Linked DNA regions of Homo sapiens. The protein of the gene in region 1 purifies or fractionates together with the protein of each later gene. This does not show direct contact. Each region holds a gene or a part of one and is shown in the gene's direction. Other genes may lie near its edges.

Evidence for each region.
Region 2: the proteins of MTG2 (region 1) and INPP5K purify together in Homo sapiens (affinity purification with mass spectrometry; one large-scale study listed by BioGRID and IntAct). This does not show direct contact.
Region 3: the proteins of MTG2 (region 1) and PCCB purify together in Homo sapiens (affinity purification with mass spectrometry; one large-scale study listed by BioGRID and IntAct). This does not show direct contact.
Region 4: the proteins of MTG2 (region 1) and CPS1 purify together in Homo sapiens (affinity purification with mass spectrometry; one large-scale study listed by BioGRID and IntAct). This does not show direct contact.
Region 5: the proteins of MTG2 (region 1) and SLX9 purify together in Homo sapiens (affinity purification with mass spectrometry; one large-scale study listed by BioGRID and IntAct). This does not show direct contact.
Region 6: the proteins of MTG2 (region 1) and MCCC1 purify together in Homo sapiens (affinity purification with mass spectrometry; one large-scale study listed by BioGRID and IntAct). This does not show direct contact.
Region 7: the proteins of MTG2 (region 1) and ACSF2 purify together in Homo sapiens (affinity purification with mass spectrometry; one large-scale study listed by BioGRID and IntAct). This does not show direct contact.

The regions. Positions count from the first base shown.
Region 1 is NC_000020.11:62,196,528-62,200,027, forward strand, and holds part of MTG2 (mitochondrial ribosome-associated GTPase 2), read left to right. Parts: intron 1-925; exon of another isoform or gene 926-1,000; intron 1,001-1,324; coding exon 1,325-1,440; intron 1,441-2,106; coding exon 2,107-2,325; intron 2,326-2,591; coding exon 2,592-2,730; exon of another isoform or gene 2,731-2,756; intron 2,757-3,500. UniProt on the Homo sapiens protein: Plays a role in the regulation of the mitochondrial ribosome assembly and of translational activity. Displays GTPase activity. Involved in the ribosome maturation process.
Region 2 is NC_000017.11:1,496,845-1,499,612, reverse strand, and holds part of INPP5K (inositol polyphosphate 5-phosphatase K), read left to right. Parts: intron 1-1,490; coding exon 1,491-1,677; intron 1,678-2,768. UniProt on the Homo sapiens protein: Inositol 5-phosphatase which acts on inositol 1,4,5-trisphosphate, inositol 1,3,4,5-tetrakisphosphate, phosphatidylinositol 4,5-bisphosphate and phosphatidylinositol 3,4,5-trisphosphate.
Region 3 is NC_000003.12:136,298,840-136,302,339, forward strand, and holds part of PCCB (propionyl-CoA carboxylase beta chain, mitochondrial isoform 1 precursor), read left to right. Parts: intron 1-2,190; coding exon 2,191-2,272; intron 2,273-3,500. UniProt on the Homo sapiens protein: This is one of the 2 subunits of the biotin-dependent propionyl-CoA carboxylase (PCC), a mitochondrial enzyme involved in the catabolism of odd chain fatty acids, branched-chain amino acids isoleucine, threonine, methionine, and valine and other metabolites.
Region 4 is NC_000002.12:210,605,099-210,608,598, forward strand, and holds part of CPS1 (carbamoyl-phosphate synthase [ammonia], mitochondrial isoform b precursor), read left to right. Parts: intron 1-3; coding exon 4-148; intron 149-1,632; coding exon 1,633-1,843; intron 1,844-3,262; coding exon 3,263-3,461; intron 3,462-3,500. UniProt on the Homo sapiens protein: Involved in the urea cycle of ureotelic animals where the enzyme plays an important role in removing excess ammonia from the cell.
Region 5 is NC_000021.9:44,943,029-44,946,528, forward strand, and holds part of SLX9 (ribosome biogenesis protein SLX9 homolog), read left to right. Parts: intron 1-655; coding exon 656-809; intron 810-3,500. UniProt on the Homo sapiens protein: May be involved in ribosome biogenesis.
Region 6 is NC_000003.12:183,036,997-183,040,496, reverse strand, and holds part of MCCC1 (methylcrotonoyl-CoA carboxylase subunit alpha, mitochondrial isoform 1 precursor), read left to right. Parts: intron 1-1,361; coding exon 1,362-1,471; intron 1,472-3,062; coding exon 3,063-3,279; intron 3,280-3,500.
Region 7 is NC_000017.11:50,457,218-50,460,717, forward strand, and holds part of ACSF2 (medium-chain acyl-CoA ligase ACSF2, mitochondrial isoform 2 precursor), read left to right. Parts: intron 1-3,459; coding exon 3,460-3,500. UniProt on the Homo sapiens protein: Acyl-CoA synthases catalyze the initial reaction in fatty acid metabolism, by forming a thioester with CoA. Has some preference toward medium-chain substrates. Plays a role in adipocyte differentiation.

The DNA.
Region 1 (3,500 bases):
CAGATGTGGTGGCACACACTGATAGTCCCAGCTACTTGGGGCTGAAGCAGGAGGATGGCTTGAGCCCAGGAGGTCGAGGTTGCAGTGAGCTCCGATTGTGCTGCTGCACTCCAGCCTGGCCAACAGAGGAAGACCCTATCTCAAAAAAACAAAACAAAACAAACAAACAAAAAAAACCCTGATGTATGGATATCATTTTTATAAATTATATGGATATTCAGCCGGGCGTGGTGGCTCACACCTGTAATCCCAGCACTTTGGGAGACCGAGGCGGGTGGATCGCTTAAGGTCAGGAGTTCGAGACCAGCCTGGCCAACATGGTGAAACCCCGTCTCTACAAAAAATACAAAAAAAATTAGCTGGGCGTGGTGGTGGGCACTTGTAATCCCAGCTACTAGGGAGGCTGAGGCAGGAGAATTGCTTGAATCCAGGAGGCAGAGGTTGCGGTGAGCTGAGATCGTGCCATTGCACTCTAGCCTCGGCAACAAGAGTGAAACTCCGTCTCAAAAAAATAAAAACATAAAACATAAAAAAAAAATTATATGGATATTCATAGTTAAGTAGCACACCCAAAAAAGCAACTTTGAGGCCAGGCGCAGTGGCTCATGCCTATAATTCCAGCACTTTGGGAGGCCAAGGCGAGTGGATCACCTGAGGTCAGGAGTTCAAGACCAGCCTGGCCAATATGGAGAAACCCCATCTCTACTAAAAATAGAAAAATTAGCCAGGCGTGGTGGCAGATGCCTGTAATCCCAGCTATTTGGGAGGCTGAGGCACGAGAATTGCTTGAGCCCAGGACACAGATGTTGCAGTGAGCCAAGATCATGCCACTGCACTCCTGCCTGGCTGACAGAGCGAGACTCTGTCTAAAAAAAAAAAGAAAAAGCAACTTTGAACATGTTTTGTTTTGTTTGTTTAATTTCAGGAGCACAGAGAGTTTCCTGTCAGGGAAGCTGACATGTCGGTCGCGTGAAAGCACGAGGCCTGTGTGGTGGGTTCGGTGGGTGCCGCTGGCTGCTGGTTATATTCACACTCAGCATAGACGCATAGCGAGCTGGGAGTGAAGCCTTCACAACAAAAGCATAGAATACAGCTACTGTAAAAAATAAGAAATTTAAAAATTTTCAGAAATGATAGCACTTTTTGAAGGAAAATAAGGATTTCATTTTTAAAAAATCACTTTGCTGGTTTTGTAACTTCTGCTGCACCCTCACTCCATGCTTCCATACCTATTTTTAAGGTTCTTAAACTGGACCCAGACACATCAGCAATAGGCCATGGTTGTCGTAACACAAAGGGACTGAGATTCTTGTTCTTGCTTTAGTTGACCAGCAAGTCAAGTCCCTGTCGTCGGTCCTGTCGCGGTACCAGGGTTTCAGTGGAGAAGATGGAGGGAGTAAAAACTGCTTCGGGCGCAGTGGCGCCGTCCTCTACATCCGGGTGAGCCGAGACTGCCGGACCTGGCCCTGTCCCCGTTGTTCTGGATCATCCAGCTCCTGGGGGCCACCGTGTGACCCACGGGGCCCCTGTGGCTTGATGCCCACAGCTAGGAAACAGCACAATGGAAACGGAGGCTGGCAGACAGCGGGAAAGCAGCCCCACCCCTCAAAGCAAACCCAGACGGGCATTTGTACCAGGGTCTCACACCATGTGCATGTCTAGTGAAAAAGTCATGAAACGATTCTCTTTTAAAAAGAGGGAGCCCACGGCACGGACGCTTCCTCCGTCTCTGACCCCATGAGCCGACCTCTGACTGAGGGAGGCCACTGGCACCCAGCGGGCCTGCGTCTCCTTCGCGAGCTGAATTCACTCGTCTCTTAGATGTTTTTTCTGGTGCTTCAGTTCACACTAACGTTTTAGAAACACTATTTGAAAAAGCCCTTTGTGCAGTCAGAAGGGTGTGTACGCAGCCCCGTGAAAGCCCTGGAGCACTGGGACCTTTTCCTTGTGCTCCGGAGCTGTTGGCAGAGGTGAGTGGGGCGGGCAGCTGCCCGGGGCACAGTCCGCTCTTGTCTTCTTTCCTTAGCGCTTGCTTCAGGAATGGGTTAAGGCCTCCTTTCCTCACTGCTGGTAGAGCTCAGCTGATGAGTGCCTGCTGTTCCCCAGGTCCCCGTGGGCACGCTGGTGAAGGAGGGAGGCAGAGTTGTGGCCGACCTGTCTTGCGTGGGAGATGAGTACATTGCCGCGCTGGGCGGGGCAGGAGGGAAAGGCAACCGCTTCTTCCTGGCCAACAACAACCGTGCCCCTGTGACCTGTACCCCTGGACAGCCAGGACAGCAGCGAGTTCTCCACCTGGAGCTCAAGACGGTGGCCCACGCCGGAATGGTAGGTGTCCCCACTGCCAACAGCATCTGCACACACTCAGCTCTAGAAAATCCACTTTTCTCAATGGGGATTTGCCAGTGGCCTGGAAGAGAACAGCTTTGCGACTCACCTTTTTCCCATCAGTACACTGCTGACTTGGTCGTGAGCATGAGCCCTTGTGACTCCCCCAGCCCTGAAATCCTCCCTCCAATCCCAGTTAGTTACAGACTCTGCGCTAACAAAGGTGCTGCCGCGGGCCGTGCCACCGTCTTCCCTCTTTCCCCCAGGTGGGATTCCCCAACGCCGGGAAGTCCTCACTGCTCCGGGCCATTTCAAACGCCAGACCCGCCGTGGCTTCCTACCCGTTCACCACCCTGAAGCCCCACGTCGGGATCGTCCACTACGAAGGCCACCTACAAATAGCAGGTAGAACTTCCAGAATTCTCCCAAAGGTTAGATTTAAATGATGTAATTCAGAAAAGTAATGATGTAACTCTTAAATTTAGCTTTCTGTTTAAAATGTAGCATTGTTGGCCAGGCGTGGTGGCTCACACCTGTAACCCCAGCACTTTGGGAGGCCGAGGCAGGCGGATCACGAGGTCAGGAGATCGACACCATCCTGGCTAACATGGTGAAACCCCGTCTCTACTAAAAATACAAAAAAATTAGCTGGGTGTGGTGGCGGGCACCTGTAGTCCCAGCTACTTGGGAGGCTGAGGATGGAGAATGGCATGAACCCAGAAGGCAAAGCTTGCAGTGAGCCGAGATCATGCCACTGCACTCCAGCCTGGGCGACAGAGCGAAACTCCATCTCAAAAAAAAAAAAAAAAAAGTAGCATTGTTTTTCCTAATGTAAACAACTTTTTTTTTTTTTTTTTTTTGAGACGGAGTCTCACTCTGTCACCCTGGCTGGAGTGCAGTGGTGCGATCTCAGCTCACTGCAACCTCCACCTCCCATATTTAAGTGATTCTCCTGCCTCAGCCTCCCAAGTAGCTGGGATTACAGGCGTGCGCCACCACGCCCAGTTAATTTTTTTGTATTTTTAGTAGAGACGGGGTTTCACCATGTTGGCCAGGCTGGTCTCGAACTCCTGATCTCAAGTGATCTGCCCCCCGCCCCACCTTGGTCTCCCAAAGTGTTGGGATTACAGGCGTGAGCTACTGCACCTGGCCCTAATTTAAACAATTTTCATCAG
Region 2 (2,768 bases), on another chromosome or scaffold:
CAGTTACCTAGAGGAGGAATGCATTTTGTCTCCGGAGCGTATTACCTTTTCCAAACCCCTCAGGGAAACTGGCAAGTGAAGAACAGGTGGGAGGTCTCTCAGTCGACTCCTTTTTTTTTGGAGATAGAGTCTTGCTCTGTCGCCCAGGCTAGAGTGCCGTGGTATGATCTCAGCTCACTGCAACCTCCGCCTGCCAGCTTCAAGCAATTATCTTGCCTCAGCCTCCCGAGTAGCTGGGATTACAGGCACCTGCCACCATGCCTGGCTAATGTTTGTACTTTTAGTAGAGAGTCAGGATGGTCTCGATCTCCTGACCTCATGATCCACCCACCCTGGCCTCCCAAAGTGCTTGGATTACAGGCGTGAGCACCGCGCGCGGCCTCTCAGTCGACTCTTGAGAGGAAATCATAAAGGCCAGTGTGCATGGCGAGCTCGTTTTGCACCAAGCACTGTGCTAAACATTTTATGTACTTTATCTCATTGACTCATCCTAGCAACCCTTCATGGTAACTACTGTTATTCCCTCCACTGGCAGGCGAGGAAGTTGAGGCCTGAGAGAGGTTAGTTTAGTTTGGTGGTTAAGAGCACATGCTCTGTGGTCATGCTGGCTGGCCCTGAATCCTGGCTCCACCACTTAGTACCTTGTGACTTTGGGAAAGGTGCTTCCCCTCTAAGCTAAGTCTCAGTTTCTCCACCTGTAAAGAGAGCATGATACACCCAGGCACAGTGGTCCATGCCTTCTAATCCCAACACTTTGGGAAGCTGAGATGGGAAGATCCTTTGAGGCCAGCAGTTCAAAACTAGGCTGGGAAACATACTGTCTTTACAAAAAAATGTTTAAAAATTAGCCAGGCATAGTGCCACGCACTTACCGTCCCAGCCACTCAGGAGGCTGAGGTGGGATCGCCTGAGCCCAGTAGTTTGAGGCTACAGTAAGCTGTGATGTCACCACTGCACTCCAGCCTGCATGACAGAGCAAGACCCTGTCTCTTTAAAAAAATAAAATTAAATTTAAAAAAAGGTGTGGTAACAGTACTGATCACAGGCATCCTCTGGTAAGCATTTCCTAAATGCTTCCCTTCCCTTTCCTGAGGCATACTTCTAGTATGCAGGGCAGCCAAATACAAGCTCAGGTGTGTCCAGCCTCAGAATCTCAAACCTCAGCTGCTTTGATCCACTGCTGCTTTTGCTCAAGAAAGAAGCAAAGCTTTGAAATGGAATGTTTCTGAGTCACAATTTGATCCATAAAAACATGAGCTAGACATACAGAGGGTCCTGGCTAAGTCTGACAAGTGCTGGCATACTTTGGATTCTGTTAGGCACCTTCCTGCCTGCTGCCTTGCTCCCTCCGGCTCTGGCCCCGGGGGTCTGTGGCTGCCAGTAGTTGCTGGAGTTAGGGGCTCCAGCAAGCTCATGTGGGCTCATTTCTGCTCTTAGCCAACCCTTTCTTCTTTCCCCATTCTTCCTCTTTATGCCCCCTGCCCCTGCAGTGAGAAAAAACGCAAGCCTGCATGGACCGATCGCATCCTGTGGAGGCTGAAGCGGCAGCCCTGTGCTGGCCCCGACACTCCCATACCGCCGGCGTCACACTTCTCCTTGTCTCTGAGGGGCTACAGCAGCCACATGACGTACGGCATCAGCGACCACAAGCCTGTCTCCGGCACGTTCGACTTGGAGGTGAACTTCTGGGCTGCCTGATACTTGCCAGAGGAATAGCTATGCTGGCCACATCCCCAAGCCCTCCATCCCTGGATTCGAATGTCAGCCAGTCCCCCAGGGGAGACCTGTGGAGGCCATGATTGCCTTTCCTGCCAGGTCGGATATCCCAGCTCCTCTTAGGAGCCGTTGATGGCTCTGTCTGTCAAAACCGTGTTCAAACCCTTTGTGAAAAGGTTTCCATTTCCTTTGGGTATTCTCCCTTGGGGCTAATGAGTTCCATTAGGCTTATTACCCAATGTGAGAAGTAGGACTTCTTTTATTTGTCCTAAATCTATCTGGATCAAGTTGCAACGGGCGCTCCCTCCATCCCTGCGTCCTTGTATCTTGCTATCTGAATGACCAAGGTGGTGTTGGCCTCCTTCAGGCTGCTGCCCCTCAGCCTTCACGTTTTCATACAGGTTTACTGGCGTGTGTGTGTGTGTGTTAGGGTCTCGTTCTGCCGCCCAGGCTGGAGTGCAGTGGCGGTATCATAGCTCACTGAAGCCTCCACCTCCTGGGCTCAAGTGATTGATCCTTCCACCTCAGCCTCCCTAGTAGCGGGACTACAGGTGCACGCCACCACGCCTGGCTGTTATGTATTTTTTGTAGACACAGGGTTTCACTATGTTGCCCAGGCTAGTCTCGAACTCCTGGGCTCAAGTGATCCTCCCAAACTGTTGGGATTATGGGTGTGAGCCACCGTGCCTGGCCCCCGCTGGTATCTGCGTTGTGTTCTTGCACGTTCACAGCTGTTCTCACCAGAGCATCCCCCCATGTGGGGCTTTGGGTCAGATAAGGCGGGAGGCCTGAGAGCAGCTGCCTGGCCGCCTCCTTAAGCCTCTCAGCCGTGCCTCTGCTCTCCGCCATTCCTACCCCCCAGCGCTGGGCCCCATGGGATTCCGACAGGGCCAGCCACCCGCCGACTGGTGTTCGGCCCTCTTTCCTGATGGCCAGCCAAGGTCCGTTGGAGCAGCCCAGTGGAGTTCCATGCCCACCCCCTCTGGGTGCCCCACCTTCCCCACTATGTTGGAAGGGCACAGTGAGGAACACTTGGCCTCAGAGGAGGGAAT
Region 3 (3,500 bases), on another chromosome or scaffold:
GGGAAGAGGTCATTTTCAGATGCTATCCTGTAGCTTAAACCTGGACTCCTTCCTGTGGGGCCTGGTCTGGGCCAGGGATGCTCTGAAGAGTTGTGTTGCCAGGGCCTCACTCTGTCTGCCTCTGCCCACTCCACAAGGGACATACCCAGTGGCCCACTGTGTGTAGTCATGGAGGGGAGAGTGGTCACAAGGTCCAGAGCTGTGGGTATAGCCTTTCTGAGTATACAGTTTGGAGTTCCTGAAGGGTTTAGGACATCACTTGAAGGTATTATGGCCCAGGAGCCCAGAAATGTCTGCATAGCCCGCTTTGGCCCAGCTATACCTCTTCTGCATATGATTCCAAGGGAGATATATATCCATATATATGTATACATATATATATGCATGTGTATATGCGTATATATGTATACGTGTATGTGTATATACATATGTTCATGTGTGCATATGTACGTATATGCATATATATGTATACATACATGTATACATATTTGTGCATACACACATACACATGCATACATATGCATGCATAGGTATATATGCATATGTATGTATATGTATGCTTATGTATATGCATATGTATGTATATGTATGCTTATGTATATATGCATATGTATGCATGTGTATGTATAGGTATGCATGTGTATGTATGTATATGCATGTGTATGTATAGGTATGCATGTGTATGTATGTATATGCATGTGTATAGGTATGCATGTGTATGTATGTATATGCATGTGTATGTATAGGTATGCATGTGTATGTATGTATATGCATGTGTATGTATAGGTATGCATGTGTATGTATGTATATGCATGTGTATGTATAGGTATGCATGTGTATGTATGTATATGCATGTGTATGTATAGGTATGCATGTGTATGTATGTATATGCATGTGTATGTATAGGTATGCATGTGTGTGTATGTATAGGTATGCATGTGTATGTATGTATATGCATGTGTATGTATAGGTATGCATGTGTATGTATGTATATGCATGTGTATGTATATGCATGCATATGTATGTATATGCATGCATGTGTATGTACGTATATGCGTACATATGTATGCATGTATATGTATGCATATGTATATGTATACGCATATGCATACATATATACATGTATGCATGTATACACACATGCATGTGTATATATGCATACCCACACATATGCATGTGTACACGCCCACACATGCATATATGCATGCCCACACACATGCATATCAACACATATATGCATATACGCATATCTACACATATACATACATGCATATCTACACGTGTATATATGTATATCTACACATGTGTTCACATACATATATACACATATGTATATGTGTATATATGTATGACAAGTAAAAAGGGAGGACTTTATTAGCAGATGGGGCTACCCTTAGTTTTCTTTCCAGCGTAGAGCTTTTTGCGAAGTTGGGCTTGATGGACACATGGCCTGACCCAAGGCCAAACCTCAGCCCAGGAGTACGTCTCAGGGTCACTGTAGCCCCTGGCTGCCCACACTGGGAAGGAGGGAATGAAAGCCTATTGGAGAGAAGAGGTTGGAGAGGGGCAAGTTGCTGGGTCCTCCTGTAGAGTGGGAGTGGGCTCTGGCTTAGTTTTTCTGCTGAGACACTTGGATGCAGGAGGAAGGAGAGAGTCCATGAGCCTGCATGTGACAGGTTCTGTGGTGATTTTGCCCAGAGGGCCTGCAGTTTTGCTTTTTGAAGGAGCTTTAGCAGATTAACCTAACAGGGAATGTGAACCCACAGTGGTTTATGCAGAGCTCTGCCTTTGCATTTCCAAGTCCTTGTTCTTTTAATGTTCCAGGAAGTTGGGCTGGGCTCTCCCAGGGCTGTGTCTTGTTCACTATAATGTCCTTCAGTGCCCTACACGGTACCTAGAATGTAGGAGGTATTCAGAGAAGATAAATGAAAGAATAACGTTTAGAGGAATAAACTCATTTTTTCCTCTAAAAGAGAACCAGAAGATCTTTTGGATTGATACTTGTCCCAGGTTCAGTTAATATGGTGGTTAAAAAGGAATGACTCTTTGGTGACTGCTTTGTAAGCCCAGCAGGGACAGAACTGGCCCAGTCCCTATGACGTGTCACCCCATTTCCTTTCCCACCCCATTCCCACAAAAGGTAACTGGCTCTTCCTATGTTGACTATACCTGCCTTTTTTCTGCCTAAAGTGACCGTCTGGTTCCTGAGCTTGACACAATTGTCCCTTTGGAATCAACCAAAGCCTACAACATGGTGGACATCATACACTCTGTAAGTGCCACATCTGTTTGTCTTGCCTGTCCTAGTCAGCCACATTCATGGGCATTGTGCTTCGGCTTAGTGAGGAAGCACTGGACCACTTGGCCTCCATGTCAGACAGCACAGGTCGGGAATAGGGTGGGCACAGGACCAGTGGCCACTGAGTAGTGTGTTCTGGAAAGACCTAGTGGCTATAGATACCCTAGTGGCACAGATGGACTTGAGGGCTGGAGATAGGAGTAGTAAGGGCCAGCAGAGCTCAGGAGTCTTTAGAAGGCCCTCTGAGGATCATAAATTAGGGGCCATGTCCACAGAGTCTAGAGTGAGGCCAGAGTGATCATTGTTAAGTATCATTGGGGCCCTCTGCTCAGAGGGGGTTTTGTCTTTATAGAGAAGAGAGTACACAGGGCATCCTAGAAGGTTGGACTGTGTGTGTGGAGGTCCGTGGGAGACAGGAGCCATTTGTACCTTTTTTTGGTACAGCAGATTCCTGGGTCATTAAGTAAAGGGGACAGTGTTGGGCAAACTGAAGGCATCTGTAGATGGCCAATGCCTTCCTTAAGGGTACACTGTGCTCTCGGTAGTCCTTGTGCAACACATCGTGATGGCTCTCTGGTAACTCTAGAAGTCAGATTCTCCCTCTTCCCTAGGGTTTGCTGTTTTCTGTTATTGTTTTTGTCTTTTTTATTCTTGTAGTCTCTTCCTGCACCAAGGATTAGCCTGAGATGTAACCTTAAGGTCTTCCTTAGGTCTTTTCTGAGCCTTTGCAGGGGCACGTGCAATCACTTTCTAATTTTCCCTGCATATGCAGTTGTTTTTGAGTGTCCTAGTTGTTAACGTCTGGCTCCCAAAAGTAGAAAAAGAGAAAAAAAATGAAGATGGTAAAAAGATGTCAGCCCTTTAAATTCCTTGGAAGTCAGTTCAGCCCAAAGCAGGAGAGCCTCGCAACAGTGTGGGGAGTTGTAGCAACAGTGACCACCCATCTCTTTGCACCTCTGTGATCAGAAGCAGCAGTCAGCAAGCACAGATTCTCAATATTTGGAGGACAGGGTCCTTTTATGCCCACCCCGGCTCCTGCAAGCTGTGTGCAAACTGCTGCAGGAACACTTGCGGAAATATCTGTCATGGAGCTGGGGTGGGGGATGGGTAGCTGCTACTATGCTAAGAGCTGAAATTAACTCCAATTTTCAGTCCAATCCTTCCCCTGGAAGTTGCAGTCTTTCAACAGACGCCAGAGTCA
Region 4 (3,500 bases), on another chromosome or scaffold:
TAGGCCTTTGCTATGACCAACCAAATTCTGGTGGAGAAGTCAGTGACAGGTTGGAAAGAAATAGAATATGAAGTGGTTCGAGATGCTGATGACAATTGTGTCACTGTCTGTAACATGGAAAATGTTGATGCCATGGGTGTTCACACAGGTAGGCAAAGTATCTTCAAGAACTATAGTAATGCTTTCAGTTCATGTCTTTGATGGCCAAGGCAGTCTTTATAAAGTTGTTGCCTTTAAATTACTATTTCTAGTTGACAGACTAGTGATAACATTTTGGACAAGCATAGTATTTTACAGTATTGAAAATGTTCTCACATTTAATTTGATCTTCACACAAACCCTGTGAAGTAAGGCGGATATTACACTGAGTTAATTGAGGAAGAGCCAAAGGTAAGCAATATGGTAGAAATAAGATCCATAAAACTTAGTGTTGAGAAATAAGAAGGGAGGTTGAGACAGTTTAAAGCAGACTGAGCTGGTAATCACCCAGTAAATGAGAAAATAGGCACAATAATAGAAATAAGTTTTTCAGAAAAGTACACTAGTTAGATAAGAGGGCAAAGATGATAACTTAGGATTTAAAAGTGCTAAATTTGGGGTGTGAGCAGAGCTGTCAAAAAAGGGAGTTGAGAATGTGGAGATGGAATTTAAGAAATAAAATAGAAATAAATAAGTTGATACAAAGACACTGGAAACTGTTGGCATAAAAGGGGAAATTGAAGTTGTAGGCATAGACAAAGTATTCAAGGACATAGGTATAGAAAGAGGAGAGAATAGGGTTGAACTTTGAACTCTGGGAAACATTTAGATTTATAGGGCAGGGGAAAGAGGAAGTATTACTGTTGAAGATAGAAGGGGAGAATAAAGAGTTAAGAGGAAAATCAGGTAGTACTGTACCAACTAAGCCAATGCAAGAACTATTTTATAAAAGAGCTTTGTTTTTGGCAGTATCAAATGCTATGCAAGACCAAGACTGATTATTTAATTTGGCTCTTTTGGATGTCCAAGAGAACAATTTCATTGCAAAGTCAGTTCTGTGAGCTCTATTAAAAGGAATTACATGGTATCAAGTGGTAAGCAGAATTGGCAAACTTTCAAGAAGCTCATTCATGTAAAGAATGAGAGAGAAGCTTTGTATGGTTGTCTGGCAATGTTGGGAGAAGACTTCCGGAGGCAGTGAAGATCTGAGCGTGTTTGAAGGCAGAAGGGATGGAGACTAAGATTGCAGATATAAGGGGCTATGATGAGGGAAGTGAAGATGGAAAGGGATGAGATACAGAAAGCCAGCTGATGAGCCAGTCTGAGTGATAATATTCAATGAAAGGAAGAACTTCAGAAATAATTTGAGATGAAGAGCAGGGAAGTTGAAGTCAATCTAGTAAGTAGACGATTGAAGCCTTGATAGCTACTTACTAGATAGATGAACTTGGGAAAGGTTAGAGAGGTTTCTAAAAGTACTGTATCAGAGTAATATGGGCAAAACAGGAATTGGGGGAATACCTGATATCACATATATATCCCAACAAACCCTCAGACTGTTCTATGTCTTGCATCGTGCAAGTAGATGGTTAAGTCGCTGAAGTTGGTTATTTCAATATGCCACCAAGTAATGAGTGCTTCTTGGATATATAGGTGACTCAGTTGTTGTGGCTCCTGCCCAGACACTCTCCAATGCCGAGTTTCAGATGTTGAGACGTACTTCAATCAATGTTGTTCGCCACTTGGGCATTGTGGGTGAATGCAACATTCAGTTTGCCCTTCATCCTACCTCAATGGAATACTGCATCATTGAAGTGAATGCCAGACTGTCCCGAAGCTCTGCTCTGGCCTCAAAAGCCACTGGGTAAGACCAGAATAATTGACCATGGGTTTGCAGATTCTTTTCAGATAGAAATGAAAAATTGACAGATAGTGGAAGACTGTACTGCATTTACAAACTATGTTCCCTTTTTCTGTATGTTAGCTCCAAATCATTTATAGCACCCTGAGGACATGATTATTAATGAGCTTGTTGCCAGATTGAGGTAAATTATATTGCTAGCTGGCTTTGTTTGCAGGCTAATCTAAACGAATCAAAATCTAGGTGGCTAAAGCAGGCTGTGAAAAATCTGCTTCCTAATTGCACTTTGCAGATGTTGTTAAAAGTGCAGATTAATCCTTAATTTTAGTCTTCAGCTGTTTTCTTCAGGTGTATAGCCCTATAGCAAATAGTTGACAGAAAATATAGCTCACTTGACTCAAGCATGCAATACACATTACTTTTATTTTATCAAAACTCCACAAGACTGAACAGTGCGGAATTTTTTCACAAGTAACTGTTACAACCAAACAAATACATCTGCTGTCTATGTAACAGCCACTAGCAGGCATGATTGGAGGGAAAGGTAATCAAAACCTTTGGTTTCTAATAATATATTTAGCACCTTACACTTAAATTATGGCATTTAAATGAACACAATATTTACTTCTTTATATTTTTTTTACGTAGTTCCACAGCACTGCGTGGAGTGGTGAAAGGCATGTTGCCCTGTACAGGAGTCACAATTCTGCATTCTCACTTGGTTCTTCTGTTGACCGTGTGATTTTGAGCACATCACTCATTGTCTTTATCAGTTTCCTCATTTGTTAGGTGGAAGTTGTACTAAAGAACTCATTTTTAATTCTATAGTTCTATGAATTATTTTCTCAAACAGAATAACCCAAACTGACATTCTGGATGAAGATAGTCAAGTTCTCAAAGTGTTAGTTTTGTAAGGAGCCCAAAGTTCAAAGATAATTTGGAGACAGAGCAAGGACCCAAACTTGAAATGCCTACATTTTCTGACCATTATGTACTCTCTTGTACTAGCTAACTCCACTGTATTCTTAGGTACAGATATGTATATGTACAGATATGTATATATTTTCTCAAAAAATATTTTGCAGATTCTCATCTTAGTGGAGGTTAAATACAAATAAAGGTTAAACTTTATTTATCAATAAAGCTATCGATTTTGGGTTGAAGAGGTGAAGGTTGAGCGTTGTAGCAATGCATGTAGTGCACAGAGAGTAAATTCTCCTGTGACCTGTGCCTCTATACTTTGTATCATGACTCCTATTATTCCGCAAGTGGCTACTAAATATTGATGCAGAACAGAGAATCAAGTGTCTTATACCCTGAAGTAGAATAATACCAGAAATTTTAAGAAAGACCAATTTATGTTTTGGTCTGTTTTCAATAATTGCTCGAAGAAAAAAAAATAAATTTGTCTTCTTTTTATAGCTACCCATTGGCATTCATTGCTGCAAAGATTGCCCTAGGAATCCCACTTCCAGAAATTAAGAACGTCGTATCCGGGAAGACATCAGCCTGTTTTGAACCTAGCCTGGATTACATGGTCACCAAGATTCCCCGCTGGGATCTTGACCGTTTTCATGGAACATCTAGCCGAATTGGTAGCTCTATGAAAAGTGTAGGAGAGGTGAGTCCTTGGTTTATTACGCTTTTCTTCTTGTTCTCA
Region 5 (3,500 bases), on another chromosome or scaffold:
TCTGACCCCCTTCAGAAACCTCTGTTGAGGTCGATGCTGCCTTCCCTGCCAAGGTCAGTGAGGCTTGCACATGAATGGGCTGGGCAGCACGGGGGTCAGGGACGGGGGGGTTCTGTCTCCTCACGGTTTGGTCGGCAGCTGACTTGGAGGAACTGAAATCTTCATGCAGGGATGAGTGTGGCTCAGAACCAGACCTGGCAGAGAGGCTGCTGAGATGACTAGTTCTGATGGGATGTGGTCAGTCTGAGCTGAAAGAGCTGTCAGGCTGGGAGCTGCCTATCCTTCATCTGCTCAGCTGCAGGTTTCTTCTGTGACACAGGAGAATGTTGTAGAAAGAGTAAGACGAAATGGTTGGGAAGGAAATTTGGTTCTTGAGATACTGGTCCTGACTCCTGAAGAACCAGGAGTGAAGCCCGTCTGGTGATTGAAGGCAGGGAGCAGGTGGGCCTGGGCGCTGCGGGTCTGCCCTGGAGCTCTGGAACCGGAGGCTTCTGCTCTGGGAGGTGAGGGTTGTTTCCCCCAGGTCCTCCCGGGCAGAGAAGCTGGGGAATCCAGGTTCTTGTCTTGCATCTTCTCCTCACCTTTAACGTCCCTCTGAAACCACAGAGCAAGTCTCACACCTCTTCTTTTCGTCCGTTTTTGTTGGGGACATTAGGACTGGGCGTTCATCAACACCAACATCTTTGCCAGGACCAAGATAGACCCCAGCGCCTTGGTGCAGAAGCTGGAGCTGGACGTGAGGAGTGTCACTTCCGTCAGGAGAGGTGAGGCAGGCTCGAGTGCACGGAGCGTCCCTTCCATCAGGAGAGGTGAGGCAGGCTCGACGGGTTACCATGCTGATACCCAGCAGGTCTGGGATTGTTCCCTCAGGCACCCGAGGTCTCAGCAGCTTTCCAGCTAACCTGTACCTGACAATGTCCTTGAGCAAGGGATGCCCCTGGCTGTTTCTTGGGGCGATTCCCCAGAGTAGATTACAGCTGTGGTTTTGCCCCTGGGCTGCATCATGTCTCCGCAGCTCTGCAAGAACTGCTCTGCGTCCTGGCAGCCACGCTGAAGCCACAGGAACTTGGGCTTTGGTGACCAACAGGGTTTGAACTGTTTTCTCCGTGTGTGCTGATTCTTTCGGTCTGTCTGTATGTTTGGGGCAGTTTTGATCCTTTTCTTAAACAAGTGCTTTATGTGTTGCAGAGGTTAGCTGCTTATCATTTTGTACAAATAACTCTTGAGGGTTTAGATCCTGAAGCCGAAGCAGGGTCCTCTCAGTTTCATCAGATCCATGCGCAGCCCTTCCCGTCTCCTGGTTGTGCTCCTTGCAGCCCTGCAGCACACACGTCAGCCTGGCCAGTGAGAGGGTCTGGGAACTCCCACTCACTCCAGTGTCCGGAGCTTAGCAGGGAACGCCGTCCCCCTGCACCTCCTACTGAGTCTGAGGTGTTTTAGAGAGTTCCCGGCCACCATGGTCAATGCTGGGAGTGTTGACTTTCTGGCTGGAGGATGGTGAGCAGTGTCACTTCCCAGGGATAAATCCAGGAAAAAGCTTCCTTCACTCATCTAAGGGAGTCGGTGAGGAGCACAAGGAATACTTTTTACATCTTGACAGCCTTGGGAAGTCATAGGTTGGGGAGGGAGAGGGCCTGGCTGTGGGGGCAGAGCTCAGGGCACCAGTGTGACAGTGAAGACTGCATGTGGCTTCACAGTCGGCAGAGCTGGGAGCGCCAGGACAGGGCAGGAGCCGGGTCTGGGGCCTGTAGATGGCCCGTTAAGATCGTGGGCTCTGGGCCTCTGCCCCTCACCGCCTGGTAGCCTCTGGCTGGACACTTGATCGCTCTGGGCCTGGGCTTTGCATCTGTCAAAGGAGGTAACAGTATTTATCTCCTAAGTTCTGGCAGTTTTGAGTTTGAGATGAGGTAGTTGGTGTGAAACGTTTAAAACAGTGCAGTGAAGGCTGTGGAGGCGCCCGCTCTGCATCTGTTGAACGAGGCTGGTCTGGTGGGAAGGCTGGGGACGAGTGGGTTTTGCAGCTGCCCAGAGGTGGGCCAGCCCTAATTCCTTGGGCACAAGTCATGTGATCACGGGTGCTCTGTGACCCTTAGCTCCATTGTCCACAAAGCGGCGACAGACATAGCTCATAGATGCTAAGGGCCTCACTGTGCCTCTAGAAAGATCCAGGTACATTTAACCAGTGCAGGTTTCCTGCTCCTTCTCTCCAAGGAGGACCTGGTGAGGTGACCAGGCCAGGTAACTCCAGAGAGAAGCTGTGCCTTCCAGCCAGGAACGCTTGATGTGGGTGGTCCGCCCGAGCTGTGTCCCTGGTTGCTGACAAGGCCCTTAAGGCTGTCCCCAAGGGGATGGGAGTCGTGGGTCTCAGTGACCTGGCTCTGGCCTGAGCTTCTCAGAGCTCTTTCACACAGCAGCCTCTTTCCTCTGCCTTTTCTTGGCCCTCTCCCTTCAAGCCCCTGTGGCTCATCTGGTCCCCAAGGTCACCTGCTGCACTGACTGTCACGTCCCCTCTTCCCCTCCTAATTTAGGGAGACGTCACGCTCACGACCCGTCTTGCCTACCAGGGAAACTCCTCTTTAGCAACATCTGGCCTCGCAGCGTTCTTGGGCTGAGGTCGTGCCCAGCAGCCCTGTGGCCTCTCCTTTGAGCCATGCTGGATCTTTGTTTTTGTTTGTTTGTTTTTTGTTTGTTTGTTTGTTTGGAGACAGAGTCTTGCTCTGTCGCCAGGGTGGAGTGCAGTGGCTTGATCTTGGCTCACTGCAACCTCCGCCTCCTGGGTTCAAGTGATTCCCCTGCCTCAGCCTCCTGAGTAGCGGGGACGGGACAACAGGCACATGCCACCACGCCCAGCTAACGCCACCACGCCCGGCTAATTTTTGTATTTTTAGTAGAGATGGGGTTTCACCCCGTTGGCCGGGATGGTCTCGATCTCTTGACCTCAGAGATCTGCCTGTCTTGGCCTCTCAAAGTGCTGGGATTACAGGTGTGAGCCACCACGCCCGGCCTGGTCTTTGTTTTTCGTAAGCTCAAACCTCATTAATTTAGAGTAACTGGTGGGAGAGGGTAGAAGCTTGAACTTTACAATGTCAAAGATTGATTTCAAATTTCAGAACCATGTTATCAGAGTAGAGCATAGAAGTGTTTTCTTGAAATAATTGAACAATAAGTTGAAAAAATTTGAAGATTCTATTGTTTGTGAGTCTGTTGGGTAATTAATTTTTTTCTTAATTCACATACCCTTATTTGTGCATAAAAATCTTAAAGCTTGTGCTGACGGGACTGTAGCGTGGCCCGTTCTGGCGCTCCCCAGCCCTGAGCTCGTGCTGACAGTAGCGTGGCCCGTTCTGGCGCTTCCTGCTTGTGTGCAGGTGTTTCCCATAGCCCGCCTTGAGGGGCACGAGGATGGGAATTATTTGAGCCGTGCGGCAGGGTCAGGGTTTTGGGTGTTGGGGAGGAGCCTTGGCCTGGGGAGGCACTTAGTGCTTCTGGCCAGGAGCCGG
Region 6 (3,500 bases), on another chromosome or scaffold:
TCAAGTGATCTGCCCACCTTGGCCTTTCAAGGTGCTGGGATTACAGGGGTGAGCCACCGTGCCTGGCCAGGACAAGTTTTTAAGAGGATGTCTGGAATGGATTTAGATAGGTAGATTTAAACAGCATAATGAAGAGTGAAGAAAAGAGAAAAAGGTATGTTTGAAGAATAGTAAGAAAATATATGACTGGAGACATGGGTTGAAGGCAAATCCTAGTGTCCTAAAAGCCAAAATGAGGATTTAGATCTTCTTAAAAATAAATTGGCAGCATTTTGAGAGCTCTGGATAAGCCACAGCAAGATTTGGTAGTTAGTAGACTTTTTAACTTAGCAAAGCATCTTAACTCTGCTTGCCCCACCGGTTCCTTCCTTTTTTTTTTTTTTTTTTTTTTTTTTTTTCTGAGATGGAGTTTCACTCTTGTTGCCCAGGCTGGAGTGCAATGGCACGATTTTGGCTCACTGCAACCTCCACTTCCCAGGTTCAAATGATTCTCCTTCCTCAGCCTCCTGAGTAGCTGGAATTACAGGCACCCGCCACCACGCCCGGCTAATTTTTTGTATTTTTAGTAGAGACAGGGTTTCACTATGTTGGCCAGGCTGGTCTTGAACTCCTGACTTTGTGATCTGCCCACCTCGGCCTCCCAAAGTCTTGGGAGTACAGGCGTGAGCCACCTGTAGGCACCTCTAATCTTATCAACGAGGACTCTGGGGTTCAAAGAGGTCAAGTGACCTGCCAAAATCCTGGAAAGACCCTGCAACAACGTTCTTTTCAACACACCACATCCTTTCTACTTGAACCATTTCTAACCAGTGGAATGTGCCCTGGTTCAGATTCTTGTTCTCTAGGACTGTAACCATCCCAGTGATGATAGCTGCCATTGGTTTATCAGTTTTGCCAGGTATGGCACTTGTCACTTTATTGTCACTCCTCCCAGCAACCCTGCAGGACAGAGGAATTATTAAACTTGCTTGACTAGTACGGAAACTGAAAGAGTGGAGGGGAGGGGAATGCTAAGGGCAGAAATGAGGGGAATGTGAGAGGGTGGAGGGAGATTGTGTTGACTTTGAAAATGAGAAGGGAAAAGAAGATTCAGAAGAAGATAGGACAGGGAAAGCCAGCTTGTGTGCCATTGAATCACCACGTTAGGGCCTGGTGCTGTTGGGTGGCCCACCTCGTTACACCTGGTGAGTTTTCAAAGCCCTCTGAACCTCAGGGTCCTCATGAATAAATTTGTGTTGTTATTTATCATGCAGGGGTTTATGAGGATTAAGCGTGAAATGTACATAACAAAATGTCTTGCTCGTTGTATTTTATTCCTTCGTGTTTTGACTTGAAGAGGTTACCGTGGTTTTCAATTTCAGGAGACGAAGTTTCCGTGCATTATGACCCCATGATTGCGAAGCTGGTCGTGTGGGCAGCAGATCGCCAGGCGGCATTGACAAAACTGAGGTACAGCCTTCGTCAGTACAATGTGAGTGATCTGAGACCGTGCCAGTGACCTTGATGTGTTTGGTCAGCACCAGAGGTCAGCCTTTGTCTTTGGCAGGGCCTTGGTCTCGTCAGCATATTTTCTATTTCCATCAATTGCCCAAACAAAATAGTTTCACATGGGAGAATTTTGCGTGGGCCAGAACAGGGTTTGAGGACTTCTTCATTTCAGTTACAAAAGAAAGATTGCAGAAGTAAAATTGTTAGTGTCAGTGCTATGCTTCGGTGAAATCCTATTCACTCTGTAGATAAGGCCAGCTATACATGGTACCTTCGTAGGTTTTTTATTTTTCCTAAGAGCTGTCCACAGTAGAAAATACTTAGGAAATAAAAGCAGATGTTTTCCTGAATGTTGTTTTCGCTACCCAGTATGCCTGCAGTCCAGTAGTTTTTCTCTAAAGTAAAATAATTATGTTCAGTTTCATCCCTTTAATAGAGTTTGTTATTTTTCTGTAGAACATTAATTTCCTTGGTGCAGAAAGTCCCATACCACATTGATTTGGCTCATAGAAGGATTTATTAACCCAGTTATTCAACTTGTTATTGTTAATAATTGATCAAAGCTCTGGTCTCTGTGGCTCCAACCACACTGGCCGCCTCACCGCTTCTGAGACTCACTCAGCATGGAGCCATGCATTCCTGTCCAATCTTCCAGAATGTTCTTCCCCCACATGATTGCAGGGCTCCCTCCTGACTACCCTGCTCTCCTGCTCTGAGCCCTTTCCCAGGCTGCCCCATTTAAAGTATGACCTTTTGTTATTCTTTATCCTCTTAGCCAGCCTTCATTTTCTTCATAGCATGTAACATTATATTCAATACCTGTTTACAGATATTGTTACTTGTTGCCCTAGAATGTAAGCAGAGACTGTGAAGGCAGGGACATCATATGTTTTGTTCCTCACTATGTCCCCAGTGCCTGGATCAGAGCCTGGCACTTAAGAGATGCTCAGGAAATGGCTGTTAAATGAATGAAGGAATGGATGAGTGAATGAATGAACCCAAAGCTCAGATAGCTGGTTTTACTTTTGATCCCATTTATTGGTGTATTTGGGTTAATTTTATACCTTTTAAAATTTTTGTATCGGTATATAAAATTTGGATTTTATTGTTGGAAAGAAGCTCTTTTGAGGGCATTTAATCCTATCCTCTCCCCAGTATAGCAATCCAGCTTGCTGTTTGCAGTCTTCCTATTCTGTGGAAGTGTTCTGAGCAGCAAGTCTTCGATACCTTGCAAATGAATTTCATTTATGTTTCTTAACATTTATTATGTTCCTAACCTGAGTCAAGTAAGTGCCTCGGTATTTCCAGCATCCTCTTTGTCATATTAAAATGTAATTTTTAGTGTCAAGTCCAGATGGATATAGTAATAGCGGATGGACATAGTGATAGTGAGATGGTTTTTTTGTGTTTTTTTTCCTGAGAATTGTCCTGTTGCCACATGGTACCTTAGTAGGTTTTTTATTTTTCCTAAGAGTTGTTCACAGTAGAAAATACTTAGATAAAAAGAGCAGATGGTTTTCTGAACATATTGTTTTCCCCACTCAGCAGGAACTGGGGGTTTATTCTCTTCCTAGATTGTTGGACTGCACACCAACATTGACTTCTTACTCAACCTGTCTGGCCACCCAGAGTTTGAAGCTGGGAACGTGCACACTGATTTCATCCCTCAACACCACAAACAGTTGTTGCTCAGTCGGAAGGCTGCAGCCAAAGAGTCTTTATGCCAGGCAGCCCTGGGTCTCATCCTCAAGGAGAAAGCCATGACCGACACTTTCACTCTTCAGGCACATGGTATGGAAGGCTTTTCTCTTTCCTCTGCTTGTCAAGTTTTGCAAATCATCATTGAACATGCTTTTCTTTCTGTATGGCACACTGACCTCTCTTTTCTCCTCTCAGTGACTGACACCATTCTTTTCAGATGTGTTTTTTAGTATGAAGGAAAGCTCTTCACTTACCATGGATGCACCCATAAACACTATTTAACCCATTAACTGGAGTGTAACTAATCACCT
Region 7 (3,500 bases), on another chromosome or scaffold:
CAGAGCAAATTCTGTTCCCATAGGAGAAGATGTGCTCTGGCTTCCAGACCTTCCAGGCCATCATTGGATATGGGCTAGGCAGTCCCTGGTGGAATCCAGGTAGAAGCTCCCAGGGCCCCCTAGGCTGAGGACCACACCATTGGTGGCCATCTCTGGCCAGGAGGGTGTGGAGGTTTGGAGGGACATGCAGCATCTTCCTTCATCACTAGTGGGATGGGAAGAGGACCAGTTTTCCACTCTAGACCTTGGCAGATCTCAGTAGACCCTGAGGGCCCACAGATTTCATAGACATATGGAATTGAATGAAATTACAAGGGGGAGAAGCAGGAGGAGCTGAGGTTGGTAGTTGAGATGTGAGGAGTGTGGGGAAAGAAACCCCACTTCTGTCCCATGTACCCCTAGGAGAGAGTAGGTTATCTTCTTTTGGTTCTCTTCTTTACCGAATAGCCTTAATCCGAGAGTTGAAATGATTTGTTTACATACATTTCTCTTCCTACCACACTATGGCTACTTAGAGGGCTGGGAGCAGTGTCTTATCCATCCCTGTATCCCTAGTACCTGGCACAGGGCTGGCACATAGTAGGTGCTCACTAAAGCTTGCTTGAATAGATGAGTCAAAGGCGGTTGGGGTGGCTTAGATGGCCAAGAGAGTGGTTGTCAAAGTGTGATTCATAGAATCCTCACCCAGTCCCACATCAGAATCACATGGGATTCTGTTAAAAATTCAGATTCTCCCGGTCCACTCCCCAGAAGCTCTGCAATGAGTAGGCATTGCAGGGGCCCAGGAATTTGCATTCTTTGTGAGATCCTGAGATGATTCCGAAGCAGCTCTCCATGGACCACATCTTGAAAAACTGTCACTTGGAGGAGGGAGTGACACTGGTTGAGAAGGTTCCTTCTGATGTCCCTGGAGGGACAAGGGAGGGATCAGCCCATAAACACAGATCCTGGTTCCAACATCCATCCATCCCTCTTCACTTCATAAATGATGTGGGTCCACTTGGGCCCATGGGTGGAGAAAACCCCAACCCCAGAACCTGGAGTTTGGGGGCTCTCCTCATTCTTCCAGGCCCAATGTCCTCTGCTCTGGACCCTTTGGTTTCAGCTGGGTTCAAGTTCCAGTCACCCTCCCGTTCTCACAGCACTCCCTTTCATTTTCCATGCCCCAGCCACAGAGACAAGCTCTCCTCTGCTGGAAAAGCCCTCCTCTCCCTTCTCTGATGATTAATACTTCCTCACCCTTCAGCTGTCAGCTTAGGCATAAATTTCTTAAGGGAGTTTTCCTTGGAGCCCCAGGTGATCCCAGATTCCGTCTTACAGGTGCTCCTAGGACCACGGCCCCTTCCTTATCTCAGCTTTCTAAACATACATTCATCATTACCAAGGTTGACTGCACTCCTGTCTTTCCCACCAGACCCTTATCTCTGCAAGGACAGGGACTGTATTTGGCTTTGTTCATTTTTTACCATTGGGCCCTCTCTGTGGTGGGTGTTTCCTAAATATTTGTTGGAGGAATAAATGTTGGCTAAGTACTCCGTAGGGCTGAGGAGGCCATAGTATGGGTGGCCCCAGGGCCCAGGTCTAAGAGAGGCTGCCTTAACCCAGCTTTGAGGGGACAGACAATGGGCCTCAGATGGGCTGGGATTCCCCCCACAGTCTGCCTCATGGCTCCCATTTCCTGATTTTCTAGGCTGTTCCCACCCACGAAGAGCTAATATGTCTAATTTCCCCAGAGACAGGGAGCTTCTTAGAAGAAGGACTGTGGCTTGTTCTATCTCTAGTCCTAGCATAGTACTTGGCACATACGGGTGCTCACTGAATGTGTGTCGAAAGCATGGTCGATAAATGCCATGAATGGATGGTAAAATGCCTGTCGACTACAGAGCACTTCACCATTCGCAAAGCACCTTTGCAGGCCTGTTCACGCTTGAACGTCATGGCCCTGCTATGGAATAGGCAAGGCAGTCTCTTCATCCCCTTCGAGCCAAAGAGTAAACAGATAACTTGCCAGGTCCCACTGGGTTTTATTGGTTTGTTGTTTGAGACAGGGCCTCTCTCTGTCACCCAGGCTCAAGTGCAGTGGTGCAACCATGACTCACTGCAACCTCTGCCTCCCAGGCTCGAGTGATCCTCCCCCTTCAACCTCCGGAGTAGCTGGGACTACAGGCATGCGCCACCATACCTGGTTAATTGTTTAAAATGTTTCATAGAGACAGGGTTTCCCTATATTGCCCAGGCTGATCTCGAACTCCTGGGCTCAAGCGATCCTCCTGCTGCAGCCTCCCAAAGTGCTGGCAAGACTTTACAGGTGTGAGCCACCATGCCTGGCTCAGGTGCCACAGTTAATAAAAGGTGGGGAAAGTTAAGTGGAGCAGTAATGGAAGTGCAGGTTCTCCTCCAGCTTGACGTGCCCTTACTTAGGGGTTGTCTCTTACCTGGCAGGGCTGGGAGGAGATGGGTAGTTCCTGAAAGGCCGATGGAGAAAACTGGGGAGTAGGTTACTACTCCCGTGACTGCCCAGGCCTCTACCCAGACCTGTTTCCACCTGTGCACTGAAATGGATAGGTAGCCACATGTGAGAGGTGAAGAGTCCCGGCCCCAGACTAGAACCCGAGCCAGGTCCCGAGCTGGCTGCTTCCTCCACTCAACATCCCCAGCTCAGTACTCTCAGGCTCTTGGTGCCCCTTGCTTATCTGACATCTGGCCCCTTTGCCTTAACTGGCTGCTTTCAGCCAGCTTCTTAATTCCCTGGAGACAGAAACTGCCTGCCTGCCTTGTGACATCATCTGAGAGTGGGAGCTGGAGCCCAGGTGCCATTTGGCATATAGGGGCTTTCTTCTTCATCTGCAGGTGCCCAGGATCTTTAGCACCTGGCACTGAACACCTACAGGCCTGTGGAATAACAGGGGCCGCCCAGCTGCCTCTCTTAGGGCCTCCATCTGCCCTCTCCTTTATCCCTTTCCTATTCTGTCTTTGGCTTTCAGGCCCTCAGGAGAAAAACTGGCCCACCAAGGAGTCTAAAATCCTAAGACCTTGGATTCAAGCCCAGGGTCCAGGCACGCTTCCCTGGTTCCTCAGGAAGGACCCCAGTGACCTGTTTATTCTCCAGGAGGCAGGGGCTAGGGGTGAAGGCATGGTCCTGCTTTGTAAGATCTGTCTGTCTGCACAGGCAGGCTCTCCCAGGCTTCACTATGGCATCTCACCTTTCCCGGGAAGGCGAAGGAGGGCCCTTTGCTCCAGCTTGGTGTAACCTTGTCCCTGTCCTGCTGCCTTGGGATTAGGCTTGAGGTTGGGAAAAGGGTCTGGGGGATTTTAGGCTTACAAGAAGATCTGGAGGAAACCTAGTGGTCTCTAACACATTGTCAGCAGCCTACCCCCTGGCTTGGCTGGGTGTGCCATGCCCTTGGTTCCAGGGAGACTGATCTGGGACAGTCAAACCCATAGCTCCTCTCCCTACAGTTCCAGAGAGGTGGATCGCATGGTCTCCACGCCCATCGGAG